Homo sapiens: one gene and its partner. The protein of the gene in region 1 purifies or fractionates together with the protein of each later gene. This does not show direct contact. Each region holds a gene or a part of one and is shown in the gene's direction. Other genes may lie near its edges.

The links. Proteins that work in one complex are often made in the same cells at the same time.
Region 2: the proteins of TSPAN9 (region 1) and VSIG1 purify together in Homo sapiens (co-immunoprecipitation; one large-scale study listed by IntAct). This does not show direct contact.

Annotation. Positions count from the first base shown.
Region 1 is NC_000012.12:3,082,771-3,088,526, forward strand, and holds part of TSPAN9 (tetraspanin-9), read left to right. Parts: intron 1-882; 5' UTR 883-949; intron 950-5,756.
Region 2 is NC_000023.11:108,072,565-108,076,064, forward strand, and holds part of VSIG1 (V-set and immunoglobulin domain-containing protein 1 isoform 2 precursor), read left to right. Parts: intron 1-112; coding exon 113-268; intron 269-685; coding exon 686-805; intron 806-3,500.

The DNA of each region.
Region 1 (5,756 bases):
ATTGTGAAAATGCAATGCCATTTGCTGTTTCCGGTAGGCATTGTTTCGTCAACTAGATTGCAAGCCCCTTCAGGGCATGGATTCTAATTCCCTCTGATGTTCTCCTTGACCCTGAAATCACTGCTGTGAGGCACAGAACAGAGTAGGCACAGTGGACCCCTCACGATCTCAAGAAATGAAGCTTGCACTTTCTGGCATCCCAAATTTGTATCCACAGCAATATTTGTTCATGGGCCTGGCTTTCTCCGGAGTCATGTTTCTGCAGAGTCAAATGTTTCCTGTATATATCCTCACACCCCAAGTTAACTGCCCTTTCAGTTTCTGCTGCAGTTTTATTTCTCACTTGATGGCCATTTTCCACCAAGTTTTTATTGCTCCATAAGAGTAACTTTGAATGTGGTAGAGATGAAAACAACAAGGTGGCCCTTTCCTTTATATTGACCTCATAGCGTACGCGATGCAAACACATCTCAGTGAGTTTACACACTTTTACATATCTTGAAACTTTGGGTCACTTGTGAGTGGCCAAAATTGTAATATTAAATCCTTGGATGACAAAGGTCTACCCCAGGGATGACAAATACATGGTGAGGATTCTGTTACTTCTGTAACTGCCCGTGGCAGACATCACTAATCAATCGCAGCTGTCTTTTCTGCTGGGCCAGGGCTTGGGTTCTGCTCATAATGCCTTGGGTACCCACCGCCAACTGAGTGGCATTAGCACACTGCCTTCCTGTTTGCCATTTCTGGCTTTCTCCATTTGTTGAGTGAGCAGTTTCTTGGTAGGGGACTGCTGCCCCAAAGAGTGGTCCTTGATGGACAGAATTCACCCTGGAGTGGCTTCTTACCAAAGTGATGACCTAATTTTTTGCCTTCCTGCAGGAATATCCTGGAACCTTCTTTTGTTTGTCAGCAGCCAAGGTGTTTCCAGGAAGTTCAGAGAGAACAGGTCAGTGTTGGTCCGGGTCCATTGTGGGGTAGGGCCTCTGAACGTCTGTGTGTTATAACCTCTGTCTGAAGTCAAGGTCTTTCTTGCCCTTTAACTGTGGGTTGGGCAGGATAGAAGAGGATGCTGACATTTTCTAGTTGTCGTGCCCTGACTCCTGGCTTTGATTTTCTAAGCTCCTTAAATTGGGCTTTGGGGGCCAGGCAAGAATGATCTCCTCCCCACTGTTTCTGATTGGTGGCTGATGGTACTCTTAGATTCTTTCTTGGCCACCCCATTTGTGTGGAGGAAGCCTAGGGAGAGGCCTGTAACTTCCTGCTTCCTGTCTCCTCCCAGCAGGCTTGGGAGCCAGGGTGGAGGGGCCTCCCACAACAGGCCAGAAGAGAAGATGCAGGAGTCCTGGCCAGTCCTTAGTGTCTCCATTTTGCTCTGCCCACCGCCCTCCACCAGGACCCCTACGGGGCCCTCTTCCCTGATCCTCCAGGCTCCTGGGGGTCTTGCTGATGGTTTGTTCATTGTTCCTAGCACTTGTGCATCGAGGCCTCCGCTGTGCCAGACTACAGACCAGGCAGCCAGACAGTGGGGGTGGACGGTGCTGATTCAGGTTCCCTTGGGGTGCTGTTTACTGACCTGGGCCTTTTTATGTTTAATTTATGTGTGTTTTCTCCTGCGGCTTCTCCCTGCTGGGTGATTTGTAAAATCTTACCTTCCCTGAACCCAATGGTGTAGTCGGTGGAGCAGGGAGAGGGGGTGGAATGGTGCTGGCTGGTGGCTCATCTTGCCAAAGATTCTCTTGTCTGTGAGTTCCAGCAGGGATTATTTGGTGTCCCAAGAGTGGCCAGGAACCTCTTATTGTCCTGCCATGCCTTGCACGTTATACTTAGGATGCCAGTATTCATATTTGTCATCATGATCAGACTCAGTTTTAGACCCTTTACAAATGTCCACAACCAATTTAACTTAATCAGATGAAGTTATAATTTAAATCTCATTTAACTTTCACAAAGGCCCCGTGGGGTAGCTGTCATGTCCTCCTCCTTTACCAGCGGCAGCAGGTAAGGCCCACATAGTGTTAGCCGGAGCAGGGGCTCCAGCCCAGATGCTATGACCCTGCAGCGCCTGCCTTTTCTAATGCAGACCTGCGGCTGTTCTTAACTGACTCTGGGAATCCGCTCCAGGTCCCTCCCTGAGCCTGCTTGTGGCAGGAATGCCTGAGCTCCCATTTTAAGTCCTCCTCCCGCCTCCCTGGGGCCCGGATGGGTGTCTGCTTTCATTCTTGCAGCTCTGGGATTTGAGGCACCGCGTATCACTGGATGGTGCAGTGCCGCTAGGCACATGGGCTTGGGTGGAGGAAAATCAGTCTGGTGAAGATCAGGCAGTAACCGTCCAGGTGCAGTGGCTCACGCCTGGAATCCCTGTGCTTTGGGAGGCTGAGGCAGGAGTTCAAGACTAGACTGGGCAATATAGTGAAACTTTGTCCCTATTAAAAAAAAAAAAAGACCGGGCGGCAGAGAGGGAAGGACTTAAGGACAAGGGAATGACCGTCCTGCTGTGCGGCATGTCCCCCACATCCCGTGGGGCCTGTTCCTGGTGGGCCCTGCCAGACAGAACTTGGTGAAGGGCTCCCCAGGAGGCCTGTATGGCCTTGGGGAGACACAGATAGCCCCTGACGTCACCAGCCGTGTCTATCTAGATGACCGTCTTTCCTCTGTGCATCTGCGTTGAAACCCAAGTGAGGGAGATGTGAGTGGAGGCCTCAGCAGACAGGACGTTGATCCTCTCTGATGGCTGTGGCTCCAGGGGGCTTTGGTTTTGCATTTCTCGTCATGCTCTGGAGCCATGCTCTGGGATGTTGACCAGCTCTGGGGTGGGAGGTTCTTGTCCTGGCTCCTGCTCCTACCTGTAACTGCTGTGCGAACTTGGGCAAGTCGATTGGCTTCTTCAGGCCATTTTCCTCACCTACAAAGCGGCAGGTTGGGTGACCCACTGCCAAGGTTCTTTCTGGCTCTGCTGGAGGTGGTTTCTGAGGTGGGATGAGTTGGTATGCCTGGGTTTTGGCTTCCAGTCCTGGGCCTGCCTTCTGCCTCTGACTAGTGCCTTCCCGGCCTCTGACCTGGAGGTGGATGGAGGAGGAAAGAGTGAAGTTAATGAGTAAACTGGAGATGCTGACTTCTGATAGGAGCGGACTGGGGGTGGAAGTTGTTTGCGGAGATGGTCCCCTGCCCCGTGAGTGGCGAGTGGCGGGGTCCTACTGCCTGACTTCTGTCCTGTGTAGACGGCTCTGCTGTTGATTTGGTTTAAACTCTCTTCTTCGTGCCCGTGCCTGAGGCAGTGAGGAGTAAGCCTCCATTGCTGGACTCCAGCCCTGCATGTTAATCATTTCAACTTCAATCATAGCCACAGCATAACGAAATGAGAATATCTGCCTGGAGCAGGTTAGCTTCCAAACTCTCTCCTTGCTCTCAAACCAAAAGTGTAACCAGAATTTTAGCCTGAACCAGGAGGGTGCTCTTCAGAATGGGAAGGAGATAGAAGAACCCCTTTGCTGGCATCTGGAGTTGGGAGCACGATCCTATCTGCATTTCAACCCGATACTTTGGAGCCAAATGTAGATTTTTTTTTTTTTTTGGCCTATTGTTTAGTATTATCTGTGCTTTGATTTACCACACCCCTTCCGCCCTCTGTTTTCTCTCAGGCTCCCTCACAGTGGATGGCTGGAAATTGATGATACTTTGAATATTCACTCACTTTCTGAGAGTCTTGTGACCATTTCTACTCTCAATGGTCATCATTTTTAGAACATCTGATCTTGTGTTAGGAACAGGAAAAGATCTGGTAGAGAGCAGTCCAGGGGGTCCGAAGAGTCAGGAAGCTCAGTAAGTGCCCCCTGAAATCCTCCCACCTGCTGGAGAGGCTTTGCTGTTATTGCAGGAAGGCTGGAGGGTCTTGTGGCCTTTGGGGTACAGGATCTTGGTGAGGCCTTGGCCTTGGCCTTAGTAGCTTAGGATTGCTGCTAACTCTCACAGCACGTTTGTGCGAAATTTGAAAAATGGCCCTTCTTCAGGTTACAAGCAAAAATTAAAGTGAATATATTATTGTACAGCTGGAACAAGGTCCAACTGTGTCTGAGGCAACCCCCTTGAGCCCTCGTGGGCAGTGACCCTGGCTGTGCGCACACTTGGAGGCACGCCGCCTCCAATCATGGGGTGCACATGTTGCTGGAAACACACACAGTCTGGTCCCTCCCCTTGCAATGTGGGGAATGTGTCAGGTTCAGAGTCAGGGAGAGGGCCTCTGAGGACAGTGAACAGGTGAGGGAAGTGAGCTGGGGTGGGAGGGATTCTCAGAGCAAGATTGAAACAGGGTGCAGCCATGCACATGTGTGGGTGTTAGTGACTATGTGCACACTTGCCTTACATGTGTGTTGGGTGTGCTTGCATGGGTTTGTGTGGGAGGGCACTCTGCATTGTTTTGGCACTCAGTGGAGGGGCCCACGTGTGCACTCTCAATAGATCAGTATAGGCCAGACACAGTGGCTGTCATCTGTAGGCCCAGCACTTTCGGAGGCCAAGGCGGGAGCATTGCTTGAGACCAGCCTGGACAACATAGTGAGACCTCGTCTCTAATAAGAATAGAAAAAAAAATTAGTCAGGTGTGGTAATCAGTGTGTGCCTGTAGTCCCAGCTACTCAGGAGGCTGAGGCAGGAGGATTGCTTAAGCCCAGAAAGTTGAGGCTGTAGTGAGCCATGATCGTACCACTGCACTCCGGGCTGGGTGACAGAGTGAGACCCTGTCTCAAGAAGAAAAGGGTCCGGGCATGGTGACTCACACCTGTAATGCCAGCGCTTTGGAAAGCCAAGGCAGGCAAATCATGAGGTCGAGAGTTCGAGATCAGCTTGGCCAACATGGTGAAACCCCATCTCTACTAAAAATACAAAAATTAGCCGGGCTTGGTGGTGCGCACCTGTAATACCAGATACTCGGGAGGCTGAGGCAGGAGAATTGCTTGAATCTGGGAGGCGGAGGTTGCAGTGAGCCAATATTGGCCACTGCACTCCAGCCTGGGCAACAGAGCCAAGACTCCATCTTGGAAAAAAAAAAATGTCAGTATATACCTGTGATGTGAGTGCCTTCCCCTTAGATGGCAGGGTAAAACCTGGACACGGTACCTGGGAACCCTGCTGACGGCCTCTCCCCTGGCCACCTGCCAGTGTGGAGACTGAGGCTTAGGGGCCCAAAGCTCTCCGACAAGCCCTGAGGGTGGCAGTGCCAGGGACAGTAGGAGAAGATCCTGCCTCAGCAAGTCCCCAGCCCCGTCTCAGGGCCAGGCTCTACAGGAGGGCTCAGAGGGGCAGGGTGCCCAGCTGAGTTTGAATGAACTGTGTCTTTCCGGGTGTGTGAACATGCAGGATGACATGTTTTGTTTTAGAGAAAATGAGGTAGAGGTCTGGGCTTGCAATTTTCCACTTGTCTTAATCCTGGGAGATTCTAAACAGCTTTGTTTAAAAACTGGACATGCAGATTGCAAAGACCTGAGTGAGGAAGAGCCATTGGGTCCCCCAGGAAAACAATTAGGTTTGAAGCCAGAGTTTGGATTTGTTCGACCATTTTGAGTGCTGTCTGCAGCATGTGGGACCTGGAGGCGCTTACAGCATCACCCATGGTGTGAGTCACTCCAAATTAGCAGCCATTTCAAATTGGCTTCCACTGACTTGCTGCTGGGGATGGGTGGGGCTGGGGGGGAAGCTCCAGGCCTGGCTGTCACCCATCATCCAGGCTGTGGCCGGCAGAGAGGGGAGGGGGCTGGAAC
Region 2 (3,500 bases), on another chromosome or scaffold:
TAAAAATAAATAAACACACATATTATTCAAAATGAAAGTGAGGAAGTGACTGCAATTGTCACAGAATGCCATTCATCCTAAAGAATTTTTATTCTTTGTCATTGCCTTACAGTGAAACCTTCTAAGCCCCTTTGTAGCGTTCAAGGAAGACCAGAAACTGGCCACACTATTTCCCTTTCCTGTCTCTCTGCGCTTGGAACACCTTCCCCTGTGTACTACTGGCATAAACTTGAGGGAAGAGACATCGTGCCAGTGAAAGAAAACTTCAGTAAGTGTAACCTGCAGTAGACCCTGGAAAGGCCTGGTGTCTGTGGTTGGATGACAGCAGGAGTGTGTGGTTGGCTGCTTGACCTTACAGTTCAATCTTCTTGTTTTCTCAGTGGTGGCGGGTGGAGGGGGGCGGCTGGTAATGTAAAAAGAATGCCTGTCTCCCAACACGATGATTGTGTTCTGGTCTACTCCCCAAATTCTAAAAGCCAGCTCAGAGATGGTGAATATGTAGGGAACAGGCATGGTCCCAGGTGAGTTAGCACTGGAACAGTCCTGAGGGGCCTAGTTGAATCCTGAACATCTCAAGAAAGAGAGGCCAATATGGGGGAGTGGGTGGACATTGAGTGATCTGTTACACTGATGTTATCTGTATGCACAGAAGAGATCTCAAAAGTCTATTCCCTGGTTTCAACAGACCCAACCACCGGGATTTTGGTCATTGGAAATCTGACAAATTTTGAACAAGGTTATTACCAGTGTACTGCCATCAACAGACTTGGCAATAGTTCCTGCGAAATCGATCTCACTTCTTCACGTGAGTTGACCATACAACTTTAACGGTTTCTCCTTAAATCAAGTAGTCTGGGCCTGTCAGACAAATAAATTAGTTAGGATCCCCAGTTAGTGCTTCCTGCTTCTCTGGAGATTTGTGTGCTTTATATACAGGCTGATATGATGAATGACCATCCTAATATCTAATGCTCACATAATAATATATGCCATATGCTGCCCTAAATCCTTTACAAAAAGCAATTTGTTTGCTTCACAAAATCGCTAGAAGGTAGGTATTACTATTCAATACTAAAAAAGAAGCCTTTCTGATAACAGCAGGCTGAATTTCTCTTTGTGATGCTGTTGGTAAATCCAGGTGACACTGTAGCTCTGACAAACATATACCTTGCAAAGATCTGCCACTAATAATAATAGTATTATAATAATAACACTCGTACCCACAATCACGGTAGCTACTATTTGTGGAGCATGAATTATGCTGAGTATTATCTCACTCTTTCCTCCCAACCACCCCTATCTAGGGAGGCAGACTATTGTCGGCCTCATTTTGCTGAAAAGAACACTGAAGCTCAGGGAAGTAAATGACTTGCCCAAGGTCATCCAGTTAGTAACTGGCAGAGCCAGGATGCCTCTAAACCTCAATTTTCCTATTCGAAGGTGCTTACTCACTCTCTGAGTGTAAGATTTAAGACTCCTGGAATTGTCCAATTGAGCTGACCCAGGGGCAACTCCTCACAAGGAATATCTCACCAAACATCTCAAGGATCACTTAATAACACTTAGGATCTTTTTTCAAACTTACTTTGAATTTGTGATTTTAATATATGCCATATCCAGGGATGGCAAGTTCCAGTGGGTTTTTGCTCTTCCTATGCACCTGAACTTTCTTCCTTTTATTTCTCCTGAAGTTTGCTCCTTTATTCTCATATCACTTTCAGCTATATTTCCTGCATCATTTCTGTTATCTTTCTTTAGAATTCCCTCAATATCTTTTTGCCTTCTCAGAGGTACAATCATACTGCAGATGTAGAGATATGTAGGATTTGGACTTGAGCATTGCTTCCTTTCTAGTCTTTTTTCCAATGATGTCCAGCACTGCCTTCCTCTCTCCCTCCCACATCCCTTCTTTCTTCCTTCCTTCCTCAAATATTTATTGAATATCTACTGTGTTCCAGGGACTGTCCTAGGTGATAAAGATACAGAGATAAAGAAGATGTATGTCCTATACTCAAGGAGCTCACAGTTCAGCTAGAGGGACAAACACAACTAAAACATGCTAAATCCTATAATAGAAGTCTGAACAGGGTCTATAGAGCACCAAGGGAGGAAAATTATGCTTATAGAACTGGGATGGCTTTACCAACAAAGTGCTATTTGAGCAGGATCTTGAAGGAACTTGCAAAGCCTCATCATCTATAAAATGGGAAAGCTGAAGCATGACGGTAGAGCAGCAGGCTTAGGAGAGCAACCAGGTCATGATGGGGGAAGAGAATGGAGGGCTTCACATGGCATGTCTCTGAGGGAAAAATCACAAGAAACTGATATATCATCTGATATGTTTGAATCAATTGAAAGAAGTTTAATGGTTTTGTTGGAAATTTCGGGATGAGTGATAATGCATTTATTAATCCCCAAATGAAGCAATTATTAACCTCCGGGAAAATTTTTGTAAATGTTGTACAAGAAAGAATCATAGTATACTGTGTTCCTCAGCTGTGAACAATATTTATATAGCCATACTACTGCAAACTTGGATTTAACTAAAACTTGTGATATAACTATTTTGGAAGAACATGGTGGGTGTGAGGGGAGTGGTGTAAAAGAGCTCAATCTCCAACTTCTAGGGTACGAAGTTGAAAGAAAATGATGGAATGGAAAAAAGGTAGGACATATCAGAGCAAACATAATAAAAACATGGGGGCAAGAAGACTTTTAAAAAGAGTTAAGAGTGGTTGCCTTTCGTGAATGGGACTCAGAAACGGGAAGGAGTCGGGCAGGGAACTGCTGTTTTTGTGAGACATGTAGTAGAACTATTTGACTTTTTAAACTATTTACTTATATTCTCTTAATCATAAAAAGTTAAAGGAATTATTATCAGGCAGCTCAAAATATAAGGTGTCCATCCTTGTGTGAGGGGAGGCAGATGGGGTTGGGTTGGCTTATAACCCAGATGTGGTCTTCCAGAGACAACACCTCAGGGCTTGAAGGTCTGGTGCTCAGCTGGATAATGTCCCACTCATTAAGTTTGTCCATAGACCGAGACAATAAACCAGATGCCTGTTTATCAAAATGGGCATATCACTTCCCAGTGACCAGAGTGCATGAGGTTCCTTCGTAAGCATTGACGCCATGGGGGAGGTTTTTAGGGACCAATTTCACCTGTGCTCTGGGAAAGCCTAGTGAAATGTTCCTGCCTGTAACAGAGGCTTATCTCTAGTGACCAGATCACAACTCCATGGTGTCTCAAGACTCTTTTCTCTAAATCCCATTTCAAAAGCAACCCCACCTCCTCCAAGTTGGCCACATTTTATTCTTTATGTGCACAAATGTCAATAGTCTTCTCCCACTGTGAGTCCAAATGACAGAGTTCTAGGGGTTTCCATTTCCCTAGCCTATACAAGTCATTTTCCCACTATGTGAATGGCCCTGATATTCCCCACTAGTCACAAACACACATTATAAAATGACAATATATTCCACTTTATTAACCAGCTGCT